4 linked regions of the Homo sapiens genome follow. The protein of the gene in region 1 interacts with the protein of each later gene in a pairwise test. Each region holds a gene or a part of one and is shown in the gene's direction. Other genes may lie near its edges.

Evidence for each region.
Region 2: the proteins of PIAS4 (region 1) and MYOZ1 interact in binary tests that used the Homo sapiens proteins (3 or more experiments, as listed by UniProt).
Region 3: the proteins of PIAS4 (region 1) and KCTD13 interact in binary tests that used the Homo sapiens proteins (3 or more experiments, as listed by UniProt).
Region 4: the proteins of PIAS4 (region 1) and ZMYM6 interact in binary tests that used the Homo sapiens proteins (3 or more experiments, as listed by UniProt).

The regions. Positions count from the first base shown.
Region 1 is NC_000019.10:4,024,722-4,031,745, forward strand, and holds part of PIAS4 (E3 SUMO-protein ligase PIAS4), read left to right. Parts: intron 1-3,424; coding exon 3,425-3,466; exon of another isoform or gene 3,467-3,468; coding exon of another isoform or gene 3,469-3,476; intron 3,477-3,788; coding exon 3,789-3,879; intron 3,880-3,998; coding exon 3,999-4,127; intron 4,128-4,209; coding exon 4,210-4,315; intron 4,316-7,024.
Region 2 is NC_000010.11:73,631,467-73,638,490, reverse strand, and holds the end of MYOZ1 (myozenin-1), read left to right. Parts: intron 1-568; coding exon 569-747; intron 748-3,757; coding exon 3,758-4,007; intron 4,008-4,425; coding exon 4,426-4,591; intron 4,592-6,329; coding exon 6,330-6,561; 3' UTR 6,562-6,879; downstream 6,880-7,024. UniProt on the Homo sapiens protein: Myozenins may serve as intracellular binding proteins involved in linking Z-disk proteins such as alpha-actinin, gamma-filamin, TCAP/telethonin, LDB3/ZASP and localizing calcineurin signaling to the sarcomere.
Region 3 is NC_000016.10:29,923,203-29,930,543, reverse strand, and holds the start of KCTD13 (BTB/POZ domain-containing adapter for CUL3-mediated RhoA degradation protein 1), read left to right. Parts: upstream 1-4,317; 5' UTR 4,318-4,510; coding exon 4,511-4,754; intron 4,755-7,184; coding exon 7,185-7,341. UniProt on the Homo sapiens protein: Substrate-specific adapter of a BCR (BTB-CUL3-RBX1) E3 ubiquitin-protein ligase complex required for synaptic transmission.
Region 4 is NC_000001.11:35,014,945-35,021,968, reverse strand, and holds part of ZMYM6 (zinc finger MYM-type protein 6), read left to right. Parts: intron 1-1,501; coding exon 1,502-1,586; intron 1,587-2,366; coding exon 2,367-2,616; intron 2,617-6,806; coding exon 6,807-6,981; intron 6,982-7,024. UniProt on the Homo sapiens protein: Plays a role in the regulation of cell morphology and cytoskeletal organization.

The DNA.
Region 1 (7,024 bases):
GTGTCCAGCATGAGCAGGAAGTTAAGTCAGGTGTTTTTTTGTTTTTTTTTTTTGAGACTGAGTGTAGCTCTTGTTATCCAGGCTTCCAGGCTGGAGTGCAGTGGCGCGATTTTGGCTTCCTGCAACCTCCACCTGCTGGATTCAAGCAATTCTCCTGCCTCAGCCTCCCAAGTAGCTGGGATTACAGGCGCTCACTACCACGCCCGGCTAATCTTGTATTTTTAGTAGAGATAGGGTTTTGCCATGTTGATCAGGCTGGTCTCGAATTCCTGACTCAGGTGATTCACCCACCTCAGCCTCCCAGAATGCTGGGATTACAGGCGTGAGCCACTGCGCCTGGCGGAAGTCAGGTTTTTTCCCAGTTATATAATGAATACGGGGTTTCCCCCTCCATACCGTGGATAGTGAGGTGGGATGGTTCCCTCGGTGGGGCCGTCCTGGGCACTGCAGGCTGCTGAGCAGCATCCCTGGCCTCCACCTGCTCTGTGCCAGGAACACCCCTAACTCTGACAACCACAGATGTCCCCAGACACAGCTCGGTGTCGCCTGGGGCAGGGTCGTCCTCAGATGAGGACGGTTGAACTGTGGCAGGTGAGGGGCCAGTGTGGCTGCCCTGCGCTCTGCTCCTCCCTCAGTCTCTCCGAGGCTGTACTGCCTCCAGCTGAGACAGATTCCTGCTGGGCAGGCTAATGGTAGGTGCTGGGCCCTTAGGACAGGGGAGGCCATTTGCCCAGGTCACCCCTGAGTCCATGGCAGGGCTGGGCCGGGCGCCCCCATTTAATGCCTAGCTTCTCGTGCCCAGCCGCTTCAGACCCACCGCCCCCACCTGCTGTGGGGCCAGGTTCCTGGGGCCTCCCAGCCTGGCCCTCACACCTAGTAAGGGTTCAGATCCAGCCGAGCCAGGCTTGGCCATGGAGGCCTCTCTGCCTGGGTGACCCAAGGTGGCGACCTCGTCTTTCTCAGCCTCGTCTTCCTTGTCTATGTACCTGGGTCAGCACAGCCTCCACCTGCACTGGGTCCCTGCTGCAGAGTGCTCAGAGCCAGCCACACAGTATAAAAAAATCAGTTTGGGCTGGGCACGGTGGCTCACAACTGTAATCGCAGCCCTTTGGGAGGCCAAGGCAGGTGGATCACGAGGTCAGAAGATCGAGACCATCTTGGCTAACACAGTGAAACCCCGTCTCTACCAAACATACAAAAAAATTAGCCGGGTGTGGTGACGGGCGCCTGTAGTCCCAGCTACTCGGGAGGCTGAGGCAGGAGAATGGCGTGAACCCGGGAGGCGGAGCTTGCAGTGAGCCGAGATCCTGCCACTGCACTCCAGCCTGGGCAACAAAGGGAGACTCCGTCTCAAAAAAAAAAAAAAAAAAAAGTTTGGTTTTCTCCTCAGAAAGCTTCTGGACATTTCTTTTTCTTTTTCTTTTTTTTTTTTGAAATGAAGTCGCTCTGTCGCCAGGCTGGAGTGCAGTGGCGTGATGTCGGCTCACTGCAACTTCTGCCTCCCAGGTTCAAGCGATTCTCCTGACTCAGCCTCCCGAGTAGCTGGGACTACAGGTGCGCACCACCACGCCTGGCTAATTTTTGTATTTTTAGTAGAGACAGGGTTTCACCATGTTGGCCAAGATGATCTCAATCTCTTGACCTCGTGATCCACCCCACATCTGCCTCCCAAAGTGCTGGGATTACAGGCGTGAGCCACCCTGCCCATCCCACATTTCTTTTTCTTATGTCGAGATATGATTTGCATACCATAGAATATACAGTTTTTAAGGGTGTCATCGAGTGGGTTCTCGTGGATCAGTAGGTATCGCAGCTCCCACCACTGCCTAGTCTCAGGGCAGTCATGTCCATCCCCAGCAGCTGCCACCCTTCATCCACTGGCCCCCACGCATCCCCTCCTGTCTGTAAATGGGTCTGTCCTGGACATTTCATAGAAGTGGAATCACATACTATGTGGCTTTCGTTTATTATTATTATTTAAGACAGAATCTCACTCTGTCGCCCAGGCTGGAGTGCAGTGTCGCGATCTCAGTTCACTGCAATCTCCGCCTCCCAGGTTCAAGTGATTCTCTTGCCCCAGACTTCTGACTAGCTAGGATTACAGGCGTGCACCACCACACTCAGCTAATATTTGTATTTTTTTTGAGACAGAGTCACACTCCGAGGCCCAGGCTGGAGTGCAGTGGCACGATCTTGGCTCACTGCAAGCTCTGCCTCCTGGGTTCACGCCATTCTCCTGCCTCAGCCTCCCAAGTAGCTGGGACTACAGGCACCCGCCACCACGCCTGGCTGATTTTTTTTTTTGTATTTTTAGTAGAGACGGGGTTTCACCATGATAGCCAGGAGGGTCTCGATCTCCTGACCTTGTTATCCGCCCGCCTCGGCCTCCCAAAGTGCTGGGATTACAGGCGTGAGCCACTGCACCTGGCCTAATTTTTGTATTTTTAGTAGAGACGAGGTTTCACCATATTGCCCAGGCTTGTCTCGAACTCCTGACCTCAAGTGACCCACCCACCTCCGCCTCCCAAAGTGCCAGGGTTACTGGCGTGAGCCACCTGCCTTGTGTGTCCTTTCGTGTCTGGCGTCTCTCACTGGGTGGGACATCCTCACGGTGCACCTGTGCTGAGGCCTGGGTCTGAGCCTGGCTCCTTTCCATGGCTGGGTCGCGTCCCGTGCGTGTTGGTCCTTCGGTCTACGGAAGGACACTCAGGATGCTGCTAGTTTGTGGCTGTTGTGGTCAGTTCTGCTGTGAACATCCACGGATGCGTCTTTGGGTAGATAGACTTTTTCCTCTTCTTCTGGGGGCGTTTCTTGTTAAAGTTTATCCTCAGGTGTTACTGGTTTTTGTTTTTTTTTTTTTGGAGAGTGTTTCTCTTTGTTACCCAGGCTGGAGTGCAGTGGTGCAATCATAGCTTGCAGCCTGTGCCTCCATGGGTTCAGACGATCCCCCTGCCTCAGCCTCCAAGCAGCTGGGACCACAGGTGTGCACCACCACGCCTGGGTAATTTTTTGTGGAGACAGTTTCACCATGTTGCGCAGGCTCGTCTCAAATTCCTGGGCTCAAGAGCTCCGCCAGCCTTGACCTCCCAAACTGGGTGTTTTCTTGCCATTGTGAGCCAGCTGCTAGATTCCCGCATGCACGTTTTAGCTATGTTTCTTCGCAGGGAGAGGCACCTGGCTGCCCTCTCTGGTTCAGGGTTTTGCTGTGGATTCTGTTGCATTTTCCAGGGAGGCCAGCCCCTCTCCTGACCTCACAGCCACTCCTCTCACCCAGCCCGTACAAAAGAGTCCTGGGCCTCAGTTTCCCAGCTCTGGGGGAGGGAGCCTTGTGGTGTGGCGGTCTCCACCTTGTCGGGTGGGCTGGGGTCACGCCCTCCTCACTCAGCTCTCCTTTCCTTTCCTCTGGTTTGCTCCACACCCACAGGGAACTGCAGCCCGGAGTTAAAGCCGTGCAGGTCGTCCTGAGGTATGCCCAGGTGTGCCCGCGACCCCAGGGCTGGACCCCCAGCCACCCGCCCCTCCCCGCCCCCCAGTCCTGGCCCAGGCCCTTCTCAGTCTCCCCTGCTAACAGCAGAGCCCAGCTCTCCTCACCTGCTGTCTATCCCTGTCTGGGGATACATCACCATCCGACCCCCACTCAGGCCACACCCGGGGGCCCTGATACCCCCCGTGTCACATTCTCCGGTGCCCCCATCACTGCCGCCTGGCTACCACTCGTGTACCCCCGCAGCAGCCTAGTCCCTCCTGTGCGCCCCCTCCCCGCCCCATGGTCCCTGTTGTCGTTGCAGAATCTGTTACTCAGACACCAGCTGCCCTCAGGAGGACCAGTACCCGCCCAACATCGCTGTGAAGGTCAACCACAGCTACTGCTCCGTCCCGGTGAGCATGCCCCGCCCCCGCGTCGGCTGCACGGGTTTGGGGGGCGTGGAGGGAGGGTGGGGGCCGTCGGATTTCCCAGCCGCTCTTGGCTCGAGGCTGAGCGGCCCATCTGCTTGCAGGGCTACTACCCCTCCAATAAGCCCGGGGTGGAGCCCAAGAGGCCGTGCCGCCCCATCAACCTCACCCACCTCATGTACCTGTCCTCGGCCACCAACCGCATCACTGTCACCTGGGGGAACTACGGCAAGGTGAGTGCGTGCCCGGGTGCCCACCCTGCCCCCCAACCCCGGCCCCGTCCTGCCAGCCCTGACCCCTTCCTTCTGTCCCCAGAGCTACTCGGTGGCCCTGTACCTGGTGCGGCAGCTGACCTCATCGGAGCTGCTGCAGAGGCTGAAGACCATTGGGGTAAAGCACCCGGAGCTGTGCAAGGCACTGGGTGAGCAGCTCAGGCCACCTCGGCCGAGGGGTGCCAAGTCCACCCTGGAAACCCGCCCTGTGCTGGGTGAAGCGGGGGGCCCTGCACCCGGAGGAGATCGATCAGGGGCCGCCTGTCACTCTGGGGGTCCATGGCCCCCCGGCTGTGGCTGGGGAGGTCTCTGGAGGATACGGATGGCAGAGGGGGCACTTGGCAGTGGGAGCTGCTGTGCGGAGGCCTGTGGGGTCACACCTCGTGTTGCTGGCCCCAGGTGCTCCAGCCCACAGGGGTCTAAGCAGCAGAAGAGCTGGAGCCTCATTCCGGGACAGCACAGAGGCCGGGAGGGGTGAGAGGAGCACAGAGGGAGCTGTGGTCTAAGCAGCCCCTTCTCGTTGCCTCAGCGGGGCCGAGGGTGCTGCGGGACCTGGCGGGTCACGGACGGCCAGGGTCGTGGAGGCAGTTGCTGTGGGAGGAAGACGGGCGGCGGCGGTCTGACCTCACGTTGGTGAGGCCCCGTTTAATCTTTTTTCTTTTTCTTTTTCTTTTTTTTTTAGAGAGTCAGGGTCTCTGGGAGGTAGAGGTTGCAGTGAGCTGAGACTGCATCGCTGCACTCCAGCCTGGGCTGCAGAGCGAGACTCCACCTCAAAAAAAAAAGTGTCTCGGTGTATCGCCCAGGCTACAGTGCAGTGGTGGGATCGTGGCTCACTGTAGCCTCTAACTCGGGCTCAAGCCATCCTCCTGCCTCAGCCTCCTGAGTAGCTTGGGACCACATGTGTTCACCACCACACCCAACTAATTTTTTTTTTTTTTTTTTTTTTTTTTTTTGAGACAGAGTCTCACTCTGTTGCCCAGGCTGGAGTGCAATGGCACGATCTCGGCTCACTGAAACCTCTACCTCCTGGGTTCAAGCGATTCTTCTGCCTCAGCCTCCTGAGTAGCTGGGACTACAGGCATGTGCCACCATGCCCGGCTAATTTTTTGTATTTTCAGTAGAGACGGGGTTTCACCTTGTTAGCCAGGATGGTCTTAAGCTCCTGACCTCGTGATCCGCTTGCCTCGGCCTCCCAAAGTGCTGGGATTACAGGCGTGAGCCACCACGCCCGGCCCCAACTAATTTTTTAATGTTTCGTAGAGATGGAATCTTGCTGTGTTGCCCAGGCTGGTCGTAAACTCCTGAGCTCAAGCAGTGCACCTGCCTCAATCTCCCAAAGTGCTGGGATTACAGTCTTGGCCACTTTCGCACCTGGTCTCTTTTGTCCTTGTAACAATGAAAACAATTTTTTTTAAGTGACACGCAGAGCAATTTTAAAAGAAAGCCTGCCGGCAAGGCGCAGTGGCTCACACCTGTAATCCCAGCACTTTGGGAGGCCGAGGCGGGCAGATCATGGGGTCAGGAGAGCAACACCATCCTGGCTAATATGGTGAAACCCCATCTCTACTAAAAATACAAAAAATTAGCCAGGCGTGGTGGCAGGCACCTGTAGTCCCAGCTACTCGGGAGGCTGAGGCAGGAGAATGGCGTGAACCCAGGAGGCAGAGCTTGCAGTGAGCGGAGATCGTGCCACTGCACTCCAGCCTGGGTGAGAGTGTGAGACTCCATCTCAAAAAAAAAAAAAAGCCTGCCAAGCCTGGTAGGCAAATCAGTCCTCACCCCAAGCAGCCACGCAGCACAAAGCCAGCGTACAGCAGTTAGCCCTGCCTGGCGGCTGTGTGGCCTCAGAAAGTCGCTGGCCTTCTCTGGTGGCCACTGTCTTCAGGAGAATAGATCTGAGCCATCTTGAGGGCACCTGGACATCTCTCTGGACCCCACATGCTTGGGGCCCAGGCCTCAGTGGGCTCTGCAGGCCTGTCTTATGGAGAGGCTAGGCCTAACCTGGAGTCATTTGGAGCTGGGAGTGGGAGTCAGGCAGGTGGGTGAGGACTGGGACCACCTGCCAGGCTGACGAGAGGGCGGTTCTGGGCCAGCCGGGTTTGCTCGCACCCCCTTCCCGAATGGTGGCTGTTTTCAGGTGGAATCTGGGCACCACCCCAGCCCCTTGGCAGAATGTGGGCCAGAGGGTCTTCCAGCTGCCCCTCCTAGCTGCCCAGGCCCCTGTGCCCAGGCCAGAGAGTTCCCCATGAGCACTGCCCTCCTGGCACAGCCAGGCCCAGGCCTCTGGTCCCTGTTCCTGACCACCAAAGGGCACCTCCTTGCCTGGGTGTCCAGAAGCCTGGAGCAGTGCTGGCACTGCCAGGGGCCTGCGAGCCCCATCGTGTTGAAGCCTCCTGTGCACTCCAGCCCCCCAAGTCAGGAAAGATAGCCGGCAGCACCCCCTCTGCAGAGCAGGACGTGGAGGGTGAGGGGTCCCTCCACGGAGTCCGGCATCCTTGGCCAGCCTCCTCCAGGCTCGGGGATGGAGGGCCTGGCTATGTACCCGTGTGACCAGTGGGGACACTGAGGCACAGAGTGGCAAAGTTAGGGTTCTGTGTCCTGGGTTACCCCGCCCCACCTCCCTCTTCCCTCAAAGGGCCCTTTTTTCAACCGCCCCCGACCTTCCCTGCCTGTGGGGACATGGCCAACTTGAGGGAGGAGGCTGGGGCCGGGCAGGCCTCTTCTAGGCCCACGGGGTGGGGGCCGGGCTTAACTCCTCAGTGACCAGAGCCCGCAGTGCTGGGGGCTGTGGGGTCAGGCTTCCTCTCCGAAGGGGTCTCCTGCTGCTTCCCACAGCCGGCCCCAGGCTCAGCCTCTCT
Region 2 (7,024 bases), on another chromosome or scaffold:
GATGGTGGTGCAGGCCTGCAATCCCAGCGACCTGGGAGGCTGAGGCAGGAGAATTGCTTGAACCTGGGAGGCGGAGGCTGCAGTGAGCTGAGATCGCGCCATTCCACTCCAGCCTGGATGATAGAGCAGGACTCTGTCTCAAAAAAATGAAAAAAAAGAATAAAAAATAAAAACAAATATATATATATATATATATATGGCATCTGTATTTGGACTCCACACAAGATTGGCCTCTGGGTTTTTCCTGATGCCATGGTTTCTCCAATGGCCTCCATCTATGATGTTCCTTTACTCCTTTTGCTCTGTACCCCATGCCCGTACCTCTTTTACCCCATTGGCCTCTCCACTCTAGTATTCCCATTATCTCCACAGTGCACCCCAGTTCCCATGCATTCTCTCCAAGTCCCAGGAAATCAAAATCCCTCACAAACTAGACAGCATTTGTTCCCCTAAATGACCTCTGCCAGGACACACATACACACTTAGTTGTGGATGAGGTCTGCATTCTGAGCCCAGAAAACCCTACTTTCCTCTTTCCCTTGATTCTTCTTCTTTGCCTCCCTGAAAGGTGGACAGGAGAGCTCAGGCTTGAACCTGGGCAAAAAGATCAGTGTCCCAAGGGATGTGATGTTGGAGGAACTGTCGCTGCTTACCAACCGGGGCTCCAAGATGTTCAAACTGCGGCAGATGAGGGTGGAGAAGTTTATTTATGAGAACCACCCTGATGTTTTCTCTGACAGCTCAATGGTGAGTCTGGAACTTTATCACTATCTCAAAGCCTGGTGCCTGTTCTGACAGCTTGTTAGTAGGCCCTGAACCTCCAAAATGCAGTCAACATCCCCTCCCTGAAAATTTATAAATTTGTTAAACCCCCAGATATATTGAGCCCGCAACAGCTCCAGGGTGAGTTACAGCCCACCTCTGAAACCCAGTTTTCATCATAGAGCCACTGAAGGGTTGGAGAATACCACACCCTTAGGGAGAAAATTCCTTCCCAGTAAAGGTAAGTGTTAAAGATAGATTGCCAGATAAAACACAGGATGCCCAGTGGGGCAGTCCAGTCTTGTATTTTGAAGTTGAGATACACAATGAATAATTTTTTAGTGAAGTATGCTCCATGCAATATTTGGGACATAAAGATAAAAATTTAAAAAAATTTTAGAAAGAAGATAAGGCAGCCAGGCATGGTGGCTCACACCTGTAATCCCAGCACTTTGGGAGGCCGAGGCAGGTGGGTCACCTGAGGTCAGGAGTTTGAGACCAGCCTGGCCAACATGGTGAAACCCCCATCTCTACTAAAAATACAAAAAATTAGCTGGGCGTGGTCGTGGGTTCCTGTGATCCCAGGTACTCAGGAGGCTGAGGCAGGAGAATCACTTGAACCCAGGAGGTGGAGTTGCAGTGAGCCCAGATTGTGCCACTGCACTCCAGCCTGGGCAACAAGAGTGAAACTCTGTCTCAAAAAAAAAAAAAAAAGAAAGAAAAAAGAAAAAAGGAAGAAGATAAGGCAAAGAATAAAATTGAAATTTTAAAATACAGAATATACAATTAAATTTGAGTTTCAGATGCACAATGAATTCTTTTTTAAATATGTCCCATGCAATATTTGGGACATTAAAATAAAAATACAGGATGTCCACTTAAATTTGAATTTCAGATGCAAATGAATAATTTTTTTAGTATAAGTAAGTCCCAAGCAATATTTGGAGGCATATCTATACTAAAAAAGTATTTGGGTCAAGTGTGGTAGCTCACACCTGTAATCCCAGCACTTTGGGATGCCAAGGCAAGAGGACTGCTTGAGTCCAGGAGTTGGAGACCAGCCTGGGCAACATGGCAAGACTCTGTTTCTACAAAAAATTAAAAAGTTAGCTGGGTCTGGTGGCGCACACCTGTAATCCCAGCTACTCTGGAGGGTGAGGTGGGAGGATGGCTTGAGCCTGGAAGGTAGAGGATGCATGAACATGAGCCATGTTCACACCACTGCACTCCAGCCTGGGTGACAGAGAACCCATCTAAAAAAAAAAAATAAAAATTTGTTGTGCATCTGAAATTCAAATTTAAGTGGTATCCTATATTTGATTTGCTAAATCTGGCAACCCTAGAAAGAGTTAATTGAGTTTTTACAGCCACCTCCCATTTGAGCCATTCTTCCATTTAAAGGGTCAGTCTATTCCCTAAGAAGCCCCAGGTGTGGAGACTGAAACGGTCCTTCAAGATATATTCTAGTCAGGCTCCTTCTCCAAAGAAAGAGGAGACTGGAGAGGGGCCAGGCACAGGATGGTATAGCTGAGGAAGAAGGGCCTTCTCCATTTCCTTTCTTCCTCCTCCACCCTCTCTGAGTGGCTGGGGGAGAGTGGAAATAGATGCCTGCATGGGGCCGGGGGCAGAAGTGTCTGTCATTGGTCCTCATATAGGAGCAGAGTAAAAGTGCTGAGCTGCTCATATCTAACTTTAGGAGGCCAAAAGCACTCTTCTCTGCCTGGGTCTGGTTACACTGGGTGGAGCATTGGGGTGTACATGGTGGGATGGCCAGGAGAGCCTCCTGAAGAAGTTGGTGGGGTTATTTTTAGGCTTTGGGTTTGCATCTAATGTTGCCCTTTTGGCCACACTTCCCCCCACCTGCTACAGTGTCACTGTCACCAGTGAGGTCCAACAGGCACCAAGAGGAGAGAGGAAGAGAAAGAAGGAGAGAGAAGAGAGTTCTGACTGTTGGACAAGCTGAGGAAGGGAGGGGGCAGAATTTCTCTAGTCCTTGTAATTAAGACTGGGTGCTCCATGGCAACCCCATCCTCCCAAATTTTAGTTGGGGCTGGACACAGCTCATGCCTGTTATCTCAGCACTTTGGGAGGCTGAGGCAGATGGATCACTTGAGCCCAGGAGTTTGAGACCAGCCTGGGCACATGGCAAACCCTGTCTCTAGGAAAAAAAAAAATACAAAATTTAGCTGGGTGTGGTAGCATGCCAGTAGTCCCAGCTACTTGAGAGGCTGAGGTGGGAGGATTGCCTGAGCCAGGGAGGTGGAGGTTGCAGTGAGCCGAGATTGTGTCACTGCACTCCAACCTGGGTGACAGAGCCAGATTCTGTCTCAAAAAGCAAAAGAATTTTTTTTCATTTTTTTTTTTTAAAGCTGGGCAGGCGTGTTGGTCTTTTTTGACTTGTTAAGGATGAGAAAGGGGAGTGTGGAGAACACGCTGCCCTTACCCTAGGTATAACTGGAGGAAACGAGCCAAGGGAGTCCTACCTCTTAAGAAGAGTTTAATTCGGGCTGGGTGCGGTGGCTAACGCCTGTAATCCCGGCACTTTGGGAGGCCGAGGTGGGTGGATCATCTGAGGTCGGAGTTTGAGACCAGCCGGACCAACGTGCAGAAACCCCACCTCTACTAAAAATATATCAAATTAGCCGGGTGTGATGGTGCATGCCTGTAATCCCAGCTACTCGGGAGGCTGAGGCTGGGAATTGCTTGAACCTGGAAGGCTGAGGTTGCGGTGAGCCGAGATCGTGCCATCACACTCCAGCCTGGGCAACAAGGGCGAAACTCTGTCTAAAAAAAACCACAAAAAATCAAACAAACAAAAAGAAGAGTTTAATTCTCTTAGTCAGCCCATGTACTACCCATCAACTGGAGGGGGAAATATCAGAAAATTCAGGGTCTTCTGGTTAGCCACTATTTCTGCCTTTGCTAAACATACCTCTGTTTTTGTATATTTTCCATACCCATTGCTAACCTTCCCCTCACTTTGTCTTCTTTTCAGGATCACTTCCAGAAGTTCCTTCCAACAGTGGGGGGACAGCTGGGCACAGCTGGTCAGGGATTCTCATACAGCAAGAGCAACGGCAGAGGCGGCAGCCAGGCAGGGGGCAGTGGCTCTGCCGGACAGTATGGCTCTGATCAGCAGCACCATCTGGGCTCTGGGTCTGGAGCTGGGGGTACAGGTGGTCCCGCGGGCCAGGCTGGCAGAGGAGGAGCTGCTGGCACAGCAGGGGTTGGTGAGACAGGATCAGGCAAGTACACTCACCCAAGAGTAATGTGTTTGGTCCCTAGAGCAGAGTTGTCCCAGGAATGATGTCTACGCTGAGTGTGGGGAGCAGAGGAGGTCAGTTTAAATATCTTAATATTAAATATAATAATATCAGTTTAAATATCATAAATATCTTGGTGAATTACCTGGGTCCAGGAGTATATAGAGATGTGTCTATTCTACCCAGAAGCCTTGTTTTTCAGTTACTTTCCTGGCTTTTCGGATTCAGTCACAGATCTGCCCACAGACTATCATTATGCCACAAACCTTATACAATTACCAGGATATTATATCTTTAGTCCCTGGCTCTTGCAATTTCCCTAGTGTAGGGGCGTGGGATTACCTTTCATTGGCTACTAAATGCTATTATTTGACTGAATTTTCTCTCCCATGGCTACCAGGAGACCAGGCAGGCGGAGAAGGAAAACATATCACTGTGTTCAAGACCTATATTTCCCCATGGGAGCGAGCCATGGGGGTTGACCCCCAGCAAAAAATGGAACTTGGCATTGACCTGCTGGCCTATGGGGCCAAAGCTGAACTTCCCAAATATAAGTCCTTCAACAGGTAGGGGTGGTGAGGAAGGAACCAGATGCATTCTAGTGTGAGGCACTGTGTCTTTAGTTAGGATGGAGACTAATTCAAATGTTTCAGAAGGAGGCTAAGGAGAGATGGCAGGGATATGGGGGTCCTAATCAAAGGCCCTGCTCTTTTCACTCTATCTCAGCTTCATCATAGCAGTGTGATGAAGGAAAAAATTTGCTGGGAGGCAGGATTTGAATTCTAGCTCAATGGTCATTTATTAGCTGTGTAGGCATGGGAAAATCACTCTACCTCTGAGCCTGGGTTGCTTTGAACGTTACACTTATTTATTTTTTGTCTTTTTTTTGCTTCCTTTTTGTGGAGAATGGGGTCTCGCTATATCGCCCAGGCAGGTCTCGAACTCCTGGGCTCAAGCTATCCTCCCGCCTCTGCCTACCTGAGACCTGGGATTACAGGGGTGAGCCACCGTGCCCGGCCTGCTTTGAATGTTAAATGCGAATAACATTTTACATGTCTGAAGGCCTCTTGAGGCTCTCTTCCATTCAAGGTTAGGATGCCATTATTCTCCCTGTAATATGATTCTATTTCCTTATACTTTTTTCTTTTCTTTCTTTCCTTCTTTTTCTTTGACTCAGTTTTGCTCTTGTTGCCCAGGCTGGAGTGCAGTGGCATGATCTCAGCTCACTGCAACCTCCGCCTCCTGGGTTCAAGTGATTTTCCTGCCTCAGCCTCCCTAGTAGCTGGCATTATAGGCACCCGCCACCACGCCCAGCTAATTTTTGTATTTTTAGTAGAGATGGGGTTTCACCATGTTGACCAGGCTGGTCTCAAACTCCTGACCTCAGGTGATCTGCCCGCCTCGGGCTCCCAAAGTGCTGGGATTACAGGCGTGAGCCACCATGCCTGGCCACCCTGCTTTAGATGGCTCTAAGTCTCTGTTCTTTTGGAATTAGGCTTCTCTAGCCCATGGAGAGGAGGTCTGTGTGAAAGGATAGGGAAGAGCTAGAAAGGTACTCTTGTATTTGGTCCTAAGGAGCCTGGATTTTCCAGGCAACAATAATTACTCTTAGCCAGGCTATCCACTGTCCACTAGGGTTGGAGAGAGGGGGTCTCTATATTGCAATTTTTTTTTTTTTTTTTGAGACAGAGTCTTGCTCTGTTGCCCAGGCTGAAGTGCAGTGGTGCAGTCTCGGCTCACTGCAACCTCCACCTCCTGGGTTCAAGCAATTCCTATACCTCAGCCACCTGAGTAGCTGGGATGACAGGGGTGCGCCACCATGCCCAGCTAATTTTTTTTTGGGGGGGGGGTGTTTGTATTTTTAGTAGAGATGGCGTTTCACCACGTTGACCAGGCTAGTCTCAAACTCCTGGTCTCAAGTGATCCACCCACCTTGGCCTCCCAAAATGCTGGGATTACAGGCGTGAGCCACCGCACCGCACCTGGCCTTTCTACATTGTCATGTAAGGTGACCTCAGGCCCTTGGGTCTATAGTATTTGGGGTCACTTTCTCTGAAATGCTGGTCTGGGTCACAGCTATCCAAGAGTCTCTAGTACACACTAGACTCCTTTTCTCATTATTAGCTTTGGGGAAACAAGCTAACCAGGAAGGCAAAATGGGATGCTAAGGAAGAAGAAGGAGTACAGATGCAATCCCAAACTAGAATTCACAGACTTCCCTATTCTCAAAGAGGGTAGCATCTCATGATAAGGCTCTGTTTCTTTTATTCTGATTCTTAATTAAATAATGTGTCCCCTTCTCAGGACGGCAATGCCCTATGGTGGATATGAGAAGGCCTCCAAACGCATGACCTTCCAGATGCCCAAGTTTGACCTGGGGCCCTTGCTGAGTGAACCCCTGGTCCTCTACAACCAAAACCTCTCCAACAGGCCTTCTTTCAATCGAACCCCTATTCCCTGGCTGAGCTCTGGGGAGCCTGTAGACTACAACGTGGATATTGGCATCCCCTTGGATGGAGAAACAGAGGAGCTGTGAGGTGTTTCCTCCTCTGATTTGCATCATTTCCCCTCTCTGGCTCCAATTTGGAGAGGGAATGCTGAGCAGATAGCCCCCATTGTTAATCCAGTATCCTTATGGGAATGGAGGGAAAAAGGAGAGATCTACCTTTCCATCCTTTACTCCAAGTCCCCACTCCACGCATCCTTCCTCACCAACTCAGAGCTCCCCTTCTACTTGCTCCATATGGAACCTGCTCGTTTATGGAATTTGCTCTGCCACCAGTAACAGTCAATAAACTTCAAGGAAAATGAACTCATTCTTCCTTTGATATTTGAGAGCAGATGAAAGCCGAGGCTAACAATGCACAGAGACTAATTAAAGCCAAATACTAAACATTAATTATGCAAACTTTAAGACAGATCTGAGCTCCAGTTGCTTACACACCTACACCCATACGCACAAAACCACATTCATAGTTACTTACAAAGACGTTTATTCA
Region 3 (7,341 bases), on another chromosome or scaffold:
TGGGGCTGGGCGTGGTGGCTCATGCCTGTAATCCCAACACTTTGGGAGCCAGAGGTGGGTGGATCACCTGAGGTCAGGAGTTCGAGACTAACCTGGCCAACATGGTGAAACCCTGTCTCTATCAAAAATACAAAAATTAGCCGGACATGGTAGCAGGCACCTGTAATCCCAGCTACTCAGGAGGCTGAGGCATGAGAATCACTTGAACCCGGGAAGTGGAGGTTGCAGCTGAGCTGAGATTGTCCTATTGCACTTCAGCAGGCAACAAGAGTAAAACTCTGTCTCAAAAAACAAAAACAAAAAAGAAATGGTGACCTGGGCAAAGTTTACCCAAAGGACATTAGTCTGAGAATACCTTCCGAATTGTACAGTCTCTGGAGCTGGTTGTAGGACACACTTACTGGCTCTTGGTTGCTGGAGTGATTTCTCTGGTTAATTCTGATAACAAATAAGACTCTCGGATGCTAACTAGTTGCACAACCCCTCAACAGTTGGCATCCCTACCTTCCTAGAGGGATAAGTTGTGTTCGGTCACCAGAGATTCAGCAATAATAGGTTTGTGATGCCCTTAGACATCCGAGGCTACACATCCATCCTTTTCTTTTCTTTTTTTTTTTTTTTTGAGACAGAGACTTTTTTTTTTTTTTCTCTGTCGCCCAGGCTGGAGTGCCATGGCACGAACTCGGCTCACTGCAACCTCTGCCTCCCAAGTTCAAGCGATTCTCCTGCCTTGGCCTCCCAAGTAGCTGGGATTACAGGCACCTGCCACCACACCCAGCTAATTTTTTGCATTTTTAGTAGTCGGGGTTTCACCATTTTGGCCAGGCTGGTCTTGAACTCCTGATCTCAGGTGATCCACCCACCTCAGCCTCCCAAAGTTGCTGGGATTACAGGCCTGAGCCACCGCGCCCAGCCTACATCCATCCTTTTTATATCGACTTTGCCTCTTATAGACAAACAATATTCAAAATACTAGACAAGAAAACACCATAGGAATGAGTGTAGAAGGACAGAAAACAATTGCACCAAGGACAAAATAAATATTTGATCAGATAACCAAAAATCCAGTGTGGGGGCCTTATTCCAGGAGTAAAAAAACTGAAAAACCAAATAAACCCAATGCTTGGCAGGGCATGGTGGCTCACATCTATAATCCCAGCACTTTGGGAAGCCAAGGTGGGAGGATTGCTTTGAGCTCAGGAGTTTGAGACCAGCCTGGGTAACAGAGTGAAACCCTATCTCTACAAAAAAATATATATATAAAACTTAACCGGCATTCCTGGGTGTGGTGGCTCATGCCTGTAATCCCAGAACTTTGGGAGGCCAAGGTGAGCAGATCATGGGGTCAGGAGTTTGAGACCAGCCTGACCAACATGGAGAAACCCCATCTTTGCTAAAAATACAAAACTTAGCCAGGTGTGGTGGCGCATGCCTGTAACCCTAGCTACTCAGAAGGCTGAGGCAGGAGAATTGCTTGAACCCGGGAGGCAGAGCTTGCAGGGAGCAGAGATAGCGCCACTGCACTCCACTCTGGGAGACAGAGCGAGACTCTGTCCCCCGCCAAAAAAAAAAAAAAAAATTAACCGGCATTGGTTAATTTTAGTGCCAGCTACTCAGGAGGCTGAAACTGGAGAATCACTTGAGCTGGGAAGCAGAGGTTGCAGTGAGCTGAGTCGTACCACTGCACTCCAGCCTGGTCAACAGAGTGAGACCCTATCTCAAAAAGTAAAAAATGAAAAATAAAAAATATGGCCAGGCATGGTGGCTCACGCCTGTAATCCTAGCACTTTGGGAGGCCGAGGCGGGTGGATCACCTGAGGTCAGGAGTTTGAGACCAGCCTGACAAACATGGAGAAACTGTCTCTACTACAAATATAAAATTAGCCAGGTGTGGTGGTGCATGCCTGTAATCCCAGCTACTCAAGAGGCTGAGGCAGAAGAACTGCTTGAACCCAGGAGGCGGAGGTTGCGGTGAGCCGAGATCGTGTCATTGCACTTCAGCCTGGGCAACAAGAGTGAAACTCTGTCTCAAAAATTAATTAATTAATTAATTAAAATAAAAAGTAAACCCAATGCTTAAGGGTATCAACACAATATCAGAACTCAATTAGCTTCCAACCATCAGCAGGTTGGCACCTCAGCGACATAAGCAGTTTCAGGTGTGCATACAATGACGAGTCAAGGGTCCCAGTCCCAGGCAGTGAGGGCTTCAGCTGAATCTTTGTTGCTCCTCCATTTCTGATAGTACCCTCCAACCAAGGACCACCAGGAAGCACCTGTAGTTGAACAAGGGAGGCTGAACACCACAGACATCTCAGCAAGAACATGTGTGAAAGGACTTATTACAGGATTGGAACTTTCATTAGGGGACTTCCTAGGCGGGTCCAAAAAGGGGGGCATTTGCTCTGGGTTGGATGCTATCAGGAAGTAGGGATAATTCTTTTTGGTTATCTTAATAATTCTTATCTAGAAGATGGGAGGAATGAATCAAGCTAAAACTGTACTTGGTAAAGAAGCAGCAGTGGCCAGGTGCAGTGGCTCACACCTGTAGTCCCAGCACTTTGGGAGGCCAAGGTGGGCATATCACCGGAGGTCAAGAGTTCAAGACTCACCTGGGCAACTTGGTGAATCCCCGTCTCTACTAAAAATACAGAAATGATCTGGGCATGATGGTGGGTGCCTGTAATCCCAGATACTCTGGAAGCTGAGGCAGGAGAATCGCTTGAACCTGGAGGTGGAGGTTGTGGTAAGCCAAGATTGCATCACTGCACTCCAGCCTGGGTAACAGAGCAAGACTTCATTTCAAAAACAAAACAAAACAAACAAAAACAACAACCAAAAAAAAAGCAGCAGTAACTTACGCTGTGGGAGAGAGGATTGTGTTGGTAATTTTTGTGGTTTGGACAATGTTCTTGTTTCTGTATTGAGGCTTTATTATGGAATGGTCTTTTTCTAGATCAGTCAGAGAGTGACCTTGTCTGATGTTTTTTGTGAAATTATTTTGCTCAACAGGACACCACCATGGCCGTGCTGTTGGTGCCAGGTCAGCTCCTAGCAACATCAAGGCTTCTGGAGTGAGGGTGCAAACCAGCTCCCAGCTGGCAGCAGTTGCTTTTCTCTTTTACACCGCCACACTCGAAATCAGAAAATTGGCAACCCCTTTGGTAGAACATGAGCTCCCGGTCACTACAGGCCCATTTATACCCAGTAACAGGCCCAGGTCACACATTTACACTCCGACCTTCCTCCTGCGTGTGCATCCCTTACACCAACCACGCCCAGAGAAAAGTCACTCGTCTAGCATCTCCCAGGGACCTGCTGGCAGGGCTGAAGATAGAACTCTGACTCTGTGTTTTCCCTCCAGCAACCCCCCTTGCTAGACATTAAGACAGATTGTTAAATCCCTGATGTATCGGCTTCTAAACTGGATGCAGATCGGGTCAGATAAAAACACTTCTCAGTGCACCTTCTTGTCAACAGTGGGTTCCTATCTATTCTTCTTTCTTTTGGGATTGGGTGCTAGGTCCCACGACATTAGCTGGGATTCTAAGACCTTTGCTCAGCTGCTGCGGCCACCACTGACACGCCCTCTGCTCCTCAAATACGGAGAACAGTTCAGTGTTCCTGCCTGAGGATCTCTGCATTTGCCTTCCCTCTGCCTGGAACTCTTCCCTCACATCCGCTTCCCAGCTTCAGCTCGGCATCACCTCCTCAGAGAGGCCTTCCATCCTTGGTGCCCGGGCACCACTGCTACCCGTTTTGGCCTCTGTTTTTTTTTTTTTTTTCAAAGGACGTTATGTTGCCCAGGCTAGAGTGCAACGGTCCGATCACGGATTACTGCAGCTTCCAACTCCTGGCTTCAAGCGCTCCTTCTGCCTCGGCCTCCCGAGTAGCTAGGCTTACAGGCTGGGGTTACAGGTGTGAGCCACAGCGCCCGGCCGCTTTGGCCTCCTTTAAGAGCTTCCCTCCGCGCTTTGTTCGCAGTTCTGGTCACAGTCTGTTCAGTGCGCGGGGCTGGGAGGCGGGAAACTGCCCAATGCCCAGACCTCTCTGTCTGTTTCCCCTCAAGCTCGTGAAGCTCTCTGACAGCAGAGACCCAATCACGAGGTGGAGACTTCGCTTTCCACATCGGGCAGGGGGTCGGCCGCATCCTCGATCTGGTCCTGGTGACTCGAGACCAGAGAGGAGCGCACGTCGACCCGCCCGGGGAACCCGCAGGCCACACGCCAAACCTCTACGGGATCCCCCAGCGAGGCCACTGCGCATGCTCCATACTCGCAGCCCCGCCCCCATTCAGGGGCGGGGCCGCGCCTGCGCAGCTGCCCGGCGCCGGCTTCCGGGTGGTGCGAGCGAGATGGGGCGGAGGGCCGGTCTTGCAGAGTAGCTGCGGTGAGTGGGCGTGTGCGCCGAGCGGTCTGGCCCAAGGGCTGGGGGCCGGCCGAGGGTCTTCGGGAGCAGGCCGCAGGGCGCGGAGAGATCCTGGGATCGCCGTCCGCCGCTGCTACCCGGCATGTCGGCGGAGGCCTCGGGCCCGGCTGCCGCCGCGGCCCCGTCCCTGGAAGCCCCCAAGCCCTCGGGTCTCGAGCCTGGCCCCGCCGCCTACGGTCTCAAGCCGCTGACCCCGAACAGCAAATACGTGAAGCTGAACGTGGGCGGCTCGTTGCACTACACCACGCTGCGCACCCTCACGGGACAGGACACCATGCTCAAAGCCATGTTCAGCGGCCGCGTGGAGGTGCTGACCGATGCCGGAGGTACGAGCGGCGCCCCTACCGTGCCCCCACCCCAGACCCCCAACTCCCGTTCCCCGCAGTCTCTCACCACCGGGGCTCCTCATGCCCCTTCTCTCTGCCCGCTACTGTCCAGTCAACTCATTCTCAGCTCCCTCCAGCCCCCACATCCCATCTCCTCCCCTTTCTCATTCATAATTTCTCTTCTCCTCCCCCAATCCTTTACCCCCAGCAATAACCAACACTTACGGAACCCCTAACTGCCAGGCGCTGTGGTAAGTGATTGAACGTGTCAGTTCATAATCCTCATGACCACCTCTCCCACCCTTCACCCCTCAGCTCAAGACTTGGGAACTAGCCCTGCTGCCTGCAGTACTACTCCTGGCAGCCTTCCTCAGTTTCTTCCGACTGCCCAGCCTTTTGTTTCCCTCTCTGCTTCAGAACTGCTCACAGCCAGCCAGGAGAGCTGGGAGATCTTGTTTGCCTCTGTGTTCCCCTGACACAGGTCCCTGTACACTCTAGGAATCCACCTGTATACACACATTGCAGAAGGAGGCTGCTTTGGGTTTGCCAGGGACACCAGAGTGGAGGGTGGACAGGTCTCCTTGGCAGGTGAACCTTACCTTCTTGGAGTGTTGCATTCAAGTATGGACCCTTCGTGCCCAAGTGAGACTTTGAAGTTTTGGAGTTTGGGAGTGGGAGAGTCTTAAGGGAGGGGTTAACGAGGACTGTGAGAGCAGGAGAATAAAAATTTGAGAGGCGGAGATCTGCCTTCAAGTATCAAAGGTGAAGAATTCGGCCAGGTGCGGTGGCTCACGCCTTTAATCCCAGCACTTTGGGAGGCCGAGGCGGTGGATCACCTGAGGTCAGGAGTTCGAGACCAGCCTGACCAATATGGCGAAACCCCGTCTCTACTAAAAATACAAAAATTAGCCGGGCGTGGTGGTGTGCGCCTGTAGCCCAGCTACTCGGGAGGCTGAGACAGGAGAATCGCTTGAACCTGGGAGGCGGAGGTTGCAGTGAGCCGAGACAGCGCCACTGCACTCCAGCCTGGGCGACAGAGAGAGACTGTCTCAAAAAAAAAAAAAAAAAAGGGAAGAATTCATTTGTCCAATAAGTATTTGTAAAATATCAGTTAGTGCTGGAGATAGGTAAATGAACCTGACAAAATTATGGAAATTCCCTTTTTTTAGGGAAGTGGGAGATCAGAAGACCAATAAGCAAGTAAACAAAATGTATATGCATATGCAATTGCAGATAGTAGTAAGTTCTTTCTTTTTTCTTTTTTTGATAGTAAGCTCTATGAAGAATATAAAAGTTAAAATGGCAGTGAACTGGACGGGGGGAGGTAGACATTTTAATTAAATAGGATGGTGAGAATTAACTTCGGGGGTTAACAGTTTATTGATAAGGTAATTCTGCAAGAACTTTCTCATGGTGAGAGCCTTCTGACTGTAGACCAGATATGGATGAGTTAATTATCTGGTTGAATATGTATAAAAACTTAAGGGAGAACTCGCTGGAGATGTTTTAAAGAGATTTCTTGGCTGTGGCACAGGTTTGAGACAGATCAGTATTCAGACTTTTTTGTGGCTTTGGAATCCTTTTTCTTTTCTTTTCTTTTCTTTTCTTTTTTTTTGAGATGGAGTTTCACTCTTGTTGCCCAGGCTGGAGTGCAATGGCACGATCTCGGCTCACCGCAACCCCCACCTCCCGGATTCAAGCAATTCTCCTGCCTCAGCCTCCTGAGTAGCTGGGATTACAGGCATGCGCCACCATGCCCGGCTAATTTTGTGTTTTTAGTAAAGACGGGATTTCTCCATGTTGGTCAGGCTGGTCTCGAACTCTTGACCTCAGGTGATCCGCCCACCTCGGCCTCCCAAAGTGCTGGGATTACAGGCGTCAGTCACCGTGCCCGGCCTTCTTTTCTTTACTTTTCTTTTTTTATTTTTTTGTTTTGAGACGGAGTTTCCCTCTTATTACCCAGGCTGGAGTGCAATGGCGCGATCTCGGCTCACTGCAAACTCCACCTCCCGGCTTCAAGCGATTCTCCTGCCTCGCCCCCCCCCGAGTAGCTGGCACCAGCCACCAAGCCCAGCTAATTTTGTATTTTTAGTAGAGATGGGGTTTCTCCGTGTTGGTCCTGCTAGTCTCAAACTCCTGACCTCAGGTGATCTGCCTGCCTCAGCCTCCTAAGGTGCTGGGATTATAGGCATGAGCCACCGCGCCTGGCTGGAATCCTTTTTTCTTATAATTTAGGCCAGGTTTGGTGGCTCACACCTATAATCCAAGTACTTGGGAGGCCGAGATGGGAGGATCACTTGAGCCCAGGAGTTCAAGACCAGCCTGGGCAACATAGTGAGACTCCATCTCTACAAAAATTTTTTTTTAATTTAGTAGCTCCAGGTCCCGCAGCAAAGCCATCTTTCCCCCTGCCTCTCCCCACCCCACTAGGTTGGGTGCTGATTGACCGGAGCGGCCGTCACTTTGGTACAATCCTCAATTACCTGCGGGATGGGTCTGTGCCACTGCCGGAGAGTACGAGAGAACTGGGGGAGCTGCTGGGCGAAGCACGCTACTACCTGGTGCAGGGCCTGATTGAGGACTGCCA
Region 4 (7,024 bases), on another chromosome or scaffold:
CATTGATTCAGAAAAGTAAGACTTTTTAAAAAACTTCCTGTTTTGAAATATGTAAGGGTATTTTAACATTAAAAAAAAGGATGGTTGCAATTTCAGAATAAAGATAGGCATTTACATTTTAAAAATGTTTCATGATTACATTTTGTTTTAAAACGTTTTAAAGAATGTGGTAAGAATAAATAGGATTTTGTCTGTGATGATTTTATGTATAATGAGCAGATTGCATTGACACTCTTGTATCTTTTCTGCCATTAACAGAAAAGGCAGCTTGTAAATCTAAAATGATTGAAATCCAAACTCTAAATCATTCAGATTTAACTTTTCTTTTTTTCTTTTTCTTTTTTTTTTTGAGGCAGAGGCTCGCTCTGTTGCCCAGGCTGGAGTGCAGTGGCACAATCTTGGCTTACTGCAGCCTCCTCCTCCCGGGTTCAAGTGATTCTCCTGCCTCAGCCTCCTGGGTAGCTGGGACTATAGGTGTGAGCCACCACGCCCAGCCAGATTTAATTTCATTTATTGCTCCTTTTTGCCGGGTGCAGTGGCTCACACCTGTAATCCCAGCACTTTGGGAGGCCAAAGTGGGCGGATCACCTGAGGTCAGGAGTTCCAGACCAGCCTGGCTAACATAGCAAAACCCCTTCTCTACTGGAAAAAAACACAAAAATTCGCCGGGTGTGGTAGCGCAAGCCTGTATTCCCAGCTACTTGGGAGGCTGAGGCAGGAGAATCGCTTGAACCTGGGTGTTGGAGGTTGCAGTAAGCCAAGATCACGCCATTGCACTCCAGCCTGGGTGACAGAATGAAACTCCAGCCTGGGTGACAGAATGAGACTCCATGTCAAAAAAAAAAAAAAATTTTTTTTTTCATTTATTACCCCCTTTTAAACACACTACCTAAAAAATAGGTAGTGCTCAGCATTTGGAATAGCTATGTATTACTCCCATATATCAAAATTTCATTTGAAAAGTAGATAAAAGTATTTTAAAAGATTCTCTAATTCTGAAAGATTGTCTTTGTAAAGATTAGTGTAATAACTTGTAAATTTTGACTTTTGAGGTGCTTGTGAAGGTATTTATGATTAGACTGTTTAAGAGATGAATAGGGCCGGGTGTGGTGGCTCACGCCTGTAATCCCAGCACTTTGGGAGGCTGAGGTGGGTAGATCACAAGGTCAGGAGTTCGAGACCAGCCTGGCCAATGTGGTGAAACCCTGTCTCTACTAAAAATACAAAAAATAGTTGGGTGTGGTAGCACATACCTGTAGTCCCAGCTACTCGGGTGGCTGAGGCAGAAGAATCGCTTGAACCTGGGAGGCAGAGGTTGCAACGAGCTGAGATCGCGCCACTGCACTTCAGCCTGGGCACCCAAGTGAGACTCCATCTCAAAAAAAAAAAAAAAAAAAAAAGGAGATGAATAGGATAGAATAATTTTTTTTTGCTTGAATTTCTAGTTTACTTACATACATTGTATTCATTGCTCTTTTCTCTTTTCTTTTTTTTTTTAAAGGAGTATGGATGTGTCCAACAGCCAAAAACTCAAGAAAGTAAATTGAAAATTGGTGGTGTGTCTTCAGTTAATGAGAGACCTATTGGTAAGAAATGGAACTGTATAAGTTAGTTACAATTAATTTGCTTATTCTGACTTTTAAAATTGAGGGAAAGCATCTTTTCATGTATGTCTTTCTCTTTCTTTAGAGCTGTGTTTTTTCAAACTGTGAGTAGCTGGTTTTCAGCAGCGTTTTAAAAAATAGAGTAAGATTATATCAGAATATGATATGTGTAGTAAGGAAACATATTGTTTCATAAAACTTCTGTTTCAGTGATTAAATTGTACATACATCCCCACGTTTACAAACATATGTATGTGAGAACTGGGTTATAATATTAAATGTATTTCTTGCGTTGAGTAATGGTTAAAAAAAAATTGAAACCTCTGTTTTAGAGCTCTTATTGCCTCATTAACTGGATTTCAAGATTGGGAATTTGTCCTGAAAAAGAGAGACTGGGCTGGGTTTAGTGGCTAACACCTGTAATCTCAGCAACTTGGGAGGCTGAGGCAGGAGGATCGCTTGAGCTCAGGTGTTTGAGACCAGTCTGGGCAACATACCTTATCTTTGCTAAAAATTAAAAAAAAATTAGCTGGGTGTGGTGGCATGTGCCTGTAGTCCTAGCTACTCAAGAGGCTGAGGCGGGAGGACTGGTTAATCCTGGGAGTTTGAGGCTTCAGTGAGCCTTGATTGCACCACTGCACTCCAGCCTGGGTGACAGTGAGACCGTGTCTCAGAAAAAGAAAAAAGAGAGAGAGAGAGAGAGACTGAGACTGTATATGCATTAGTATTGATACTAAAACTTTTTTTATTTTGTTTTGATAGCCCAGCAGTTGAACCCAGGCTTTCAGCTTTCTTTTGCATCATCTGGCCCAAGTGTGTTGCTTCCTTCAGTTCCAGCTGTTGCTATTAAGGTTTTTTGTTCTGGTTGTAAAAAAATGCTTTATAAGGGCCAAACTGCATATCATAAGACAGGATCTACTCAGCTCTTCTGCTCCACACGATGCATCACCAGACATTCTTCACCTGCCTGCCTGCCACCTCCTCCCAAGAAAACCTGCACAAACTGCTCGAAGTATAAAATTCTTAACATCCCTTTTTACTTTACCTTTTTTTTAGTGTGTATATTGTTTAGTTCAAACATACTGTTGATACTTTAAATCTCTTCAGCATGTATCTGTAGAAATAACTTTTTAGTTAATGGAAGAATTCACCAATTTTAAAGTTTTGCAACATTAAATAAGTGACTTGGTGTTAGAATATTGCCTAAACCAGTTTTCTATCACTTTAAATTTTACTATGGAAAGAAATAACAAATGACATGTGGGAATTGCAGGACTATCCTGTAATTGTAGACACCCACCATTTAAATTTATTTAACAGTTATCTTGAAAGCTATTGGGTATAGCATAAAATAATATCACTCTTTTAATAGTATACAAAAGCTATTTAATTCTTTAAAAAGTAAAAACTCTACATGGTCGCAAAAATGTGTTTATTTCTAATGTCCTTGTGGGGTCATTGTTGCTTTACAATAATGCTTAGATGCAGAGAGAGGAAAAAACAGCAACAAAGTCACATAAATCTTTCCCTGACTTAGTACATTTGAAGGATTTGGCATATTTTGCCTATTTCTGTGGTAGTGTAATTTGAGGAATACAGTGTGTTGTTAATAGTCACTACAGGCAAAAAACAGTAAGAGCTTGCTTTTAAATTGTGGCTCTGTCATTTATCTCTGTGACTTCGGGCTAGATGTTTAACTTTCTAAGCCTCCATTTCTCATCAGTAAATAATAGTTGCTTCCTAGGACTTTAATGAGACAGTGTTAGCAAATGGCCTAGCACATAGCAAGTACTTAAAAAATGGAATCCTGTTATTATTAATAATAAAAATTATATCGTGCGATTATTTATAATTAACATAAATAAATATAATAAATATATGTGTATATAATACATATTACTATGTATACTTAACATATCACTTGTAGGCCCCTATTTTGTCTTTGGCTGTGTTTATCTGCTTTGTGTCTTGACTTAAACTATTTAAAAGTAGATCCTGCTATATGGAAATTTCCAAGTAAAGAGGAGAGAGGATTTTTTTTTTTCTTTGTTGCCCATGGTAGAGTGATCACAGCTCACTGCAGCCTTGAACTCCCCGGGCTCAGATGATCCTCCCACCTCAGCCTTTCAAATAGCTGGGACCACAGGCGCATACCACCATGCCCGACTAATTTTTGTATTTTTTTGTAGAGATGGTTTTGCTATGTTGCCCAGGCTGGTCTCAAACTCCTGGGCTCAAGCAATTAGCCTGCCTCAGCCTCCTAAAGTGCTGGGACTATTGGTGTGAGCCATCACATGTGGCCAGGAGAGAGGAATTTTAAAATATTTATATACTCTAAATTAGTTTGTTGCAAAATACCATTCTAATTAATGCTTTTATGTCATTCTCATGAAACTAATCTGAAAGAGTAAACTTAGTTTTCTATTTTTAGATATTGTTTCAACATACCAAATACCAAAATAAAATTAAATAATTTTAAAGAACATAACACAACTTATACATCCAAATGCCTATTGTTTTCTTAAAAGTAGTCACCCCCGTCAGTGACTTTTTAGCATAAGGTTAGGAGACAGATTCTTATCTTTTCAGCATGCATTTGATTTTTACAAATTTTCAAAGGCTGCTTGATACCTTAATCAGGCCAATATATTAGCTAATTAAATTAAGTCATACTGTTAAAACATGATATTTATAAAATTAAAAGTTAAAAAATAGTCTAAGGGTTTATCTTAAGTTTTATCTTAAAAAAATTAGAAAAATGTTTTGAGCTATGTTATTGTTGGAAGGTGTGGTTTTTCTACGGTAAATGTTACGATATAACACTCATTTGCATGTGTAAGGTTCAGAGTACACTTATAATTTATGTGCACAGATTTTCATTATAAAGTCATTCTCTTTGATTTACATATTTTTACTTGCTATTTTTGTACTTATTATGCCACTGGCAGATTCACCTTATTAAGTGAAACTCTTTATTGCTCTGTTTTCAGTAGAAAAATCACTTTTCAAAATTAATACTTCATCTGTGTATAAGCATATTCTTTTGGTTTCTAAGATTTGCTGTCATATTTTTAAAGTTGAGTTTTAAAGAATTAAAATAATTTTTGTTGTTGTTATTTTCTCATGGTTTACCATTGAATATACCTGTATAATAAAGGTGCAGGATGGGAGGCAGGATAGTGGAATAATTAATTCCATAGACTAGAATCAGATTGCCTGGATTAGTATTTCAGCTTTATTGCCTACTAGCAATATGACTTTGACAAGCTATTTAACCTCTCATTCAGTTTCCTCATCTGTAAAGTGGCAGTTACAGTAATACTTAACCTTATAGTGGTTTGGGGATTTTTTTTTTTTTTTGAGACACGGTCTCACTCTGTCACCCAGGCTGGAGTGCAGTGGCGTGATCCCAGCTCACTGCAGCCTCTACCTCCCGGGCTCAAGCAATCCTCCCACCTCAGCATCCTGAGTAACTGAGACCATGGGCATGAGCCAGCATGCCCTGCTAATTAAAAAATTTTTTTTATAGAGATCGGGTCTTGCTCTGTTGCCCAGGCTGGAGTGCAGTGGCATGATCATGGCTCACTGGAGTCTTGAACTCCCTGGGCTCAAGCAATCCTTCTGCCTTGGCCTTCCAAAGTGCTAGGATTATGGGGGTGAGCCACTGCACTCCATCATTTTTGTGGTATTTAAATTGGGTAATTTGAGTAAAGAGAATAATGCTTGGCACATAGTAATTACTCAACACACTTATTGTAGTATATATTATTGCCATTATTATTTACTTTGTGGCCTGCACTAGTGTTTATAATTAGTGACTATTTCCTTTAGTTTTTATACTTGTCAGAAGAATGGCAATACTTAACCTCTGTTTTACCAGGGTATTGCTATTTGTGCTTATTGCAATAATTAGCTCTTACAAATTGGCTCTAGGAGTCTCACAGAACCACCCAATTATTTTTGTTCTTCCTGTCTCGTTCTTGTTTCCATCTGTCCTCTGATACAAAGCCTTAACAGCCCTTTTGTCATATATCATGCTTATTTTTTGTCTTCTGTTAGCTCATTTGTTTCTCAAAATCTTGCACTTTTAATTTTTAAACATTCATTTATTGTCTTGGCTGGACACGGTGGCTTATGCCTGTAATCCCAACACTTTGGGAGGCTGACGCAGGCGGATCGCGAGGTCAGGAATTTGAGACCAGCGTGGCCAATATGGCGAAACCCCGTCTGTACTAAAAATACAAAAATTAGCCTGGCATGGTGGCACGTGCTGGTGTCCCAGCTACTCGAACCGGAGGCTGAGACAGGAGGATCGCTTGAACCCAGGAGGTGGAGATTGCAGTGAGCCGAGATCGTGACACTGCACTCCAGCCTGGGCAGCAGAGCGAGACTCCGTCTCACAAAAAAAAAAAAAAAAAAGAAAGAAAAAATTCATTTATTGTCTCATTTCAGTTCTACTTTGGGCAGCCTCTGGCTAATGAGAGAACCAGTGTCTTGTGGTCTGGAGTTGTGGGATGGACACTGGTCCCATTGGCTATAGCAGATGAAACTTGGTTGGGGCTGGAAGCCTTCCTATTTTTGTCTTCAGCATCTGGCTGGCCACATATATATATATATATATTTTTTTTTTTTTTTTTTTTTGAGATGGAGTCTAGCTCTGTTGCCAAGGCTGGGGTGCAGTGGCACAATCTCGGCTCACTGCAACCTCCACCTCCCGGGTTCAAGTGATTCTCCTGCCTCAGCCTCCCGAGTAGCTGGGATTACAGGCGCCCACCACCACGCCCATCTAGTTTTTGTATTTTTAGTAGAGACGAGGTTTCACCATGTTGGCCAGGCTGGTCTCGAACTCCTGACCTCATGATCCGCCCACCTCGGCCTCCCAAAGTGATGGGATTACATGCATGAACCACCGCACCTGGCCCTGGCTGGCTATATTTTAAATATAATTCACTCTTGACAAATTTATGAATTAGATATTATAAGCCCCATTTTATACATGAAGAAATTGAGATAGTAATTACATCATTCATTGTCACTCACCTGATAAATAGCAGAACTCATCAAACCCAGGTTTGCAGATTCCTTATCCTTTTTCTACCATACAGTACCTGCCCTTAGTAAGTGTTATTTCACCTCACAAAGAGGAGGAAGTTACAGTTGTGAAGAATACATTTCATTTTTACCTTTGTTATTTATTTTTAGAGACATTTTAAATCCTAAGGATGTGATCACAACTCGCTTTGAGAATTCCTATCCTAGCAAAGATTTCTGCAGCCAATCATGCTTGTCATCTTATGAGCTAAAGAAAAAACCTGTTGTTACCATATATACCAAAAGCATTTCAACTAAGTGCAGTATGTGTCAGAAGAATGCTGATGTAAGTTACATTTTACTTTTATTGGGATTCTGCTGAAAGAGAT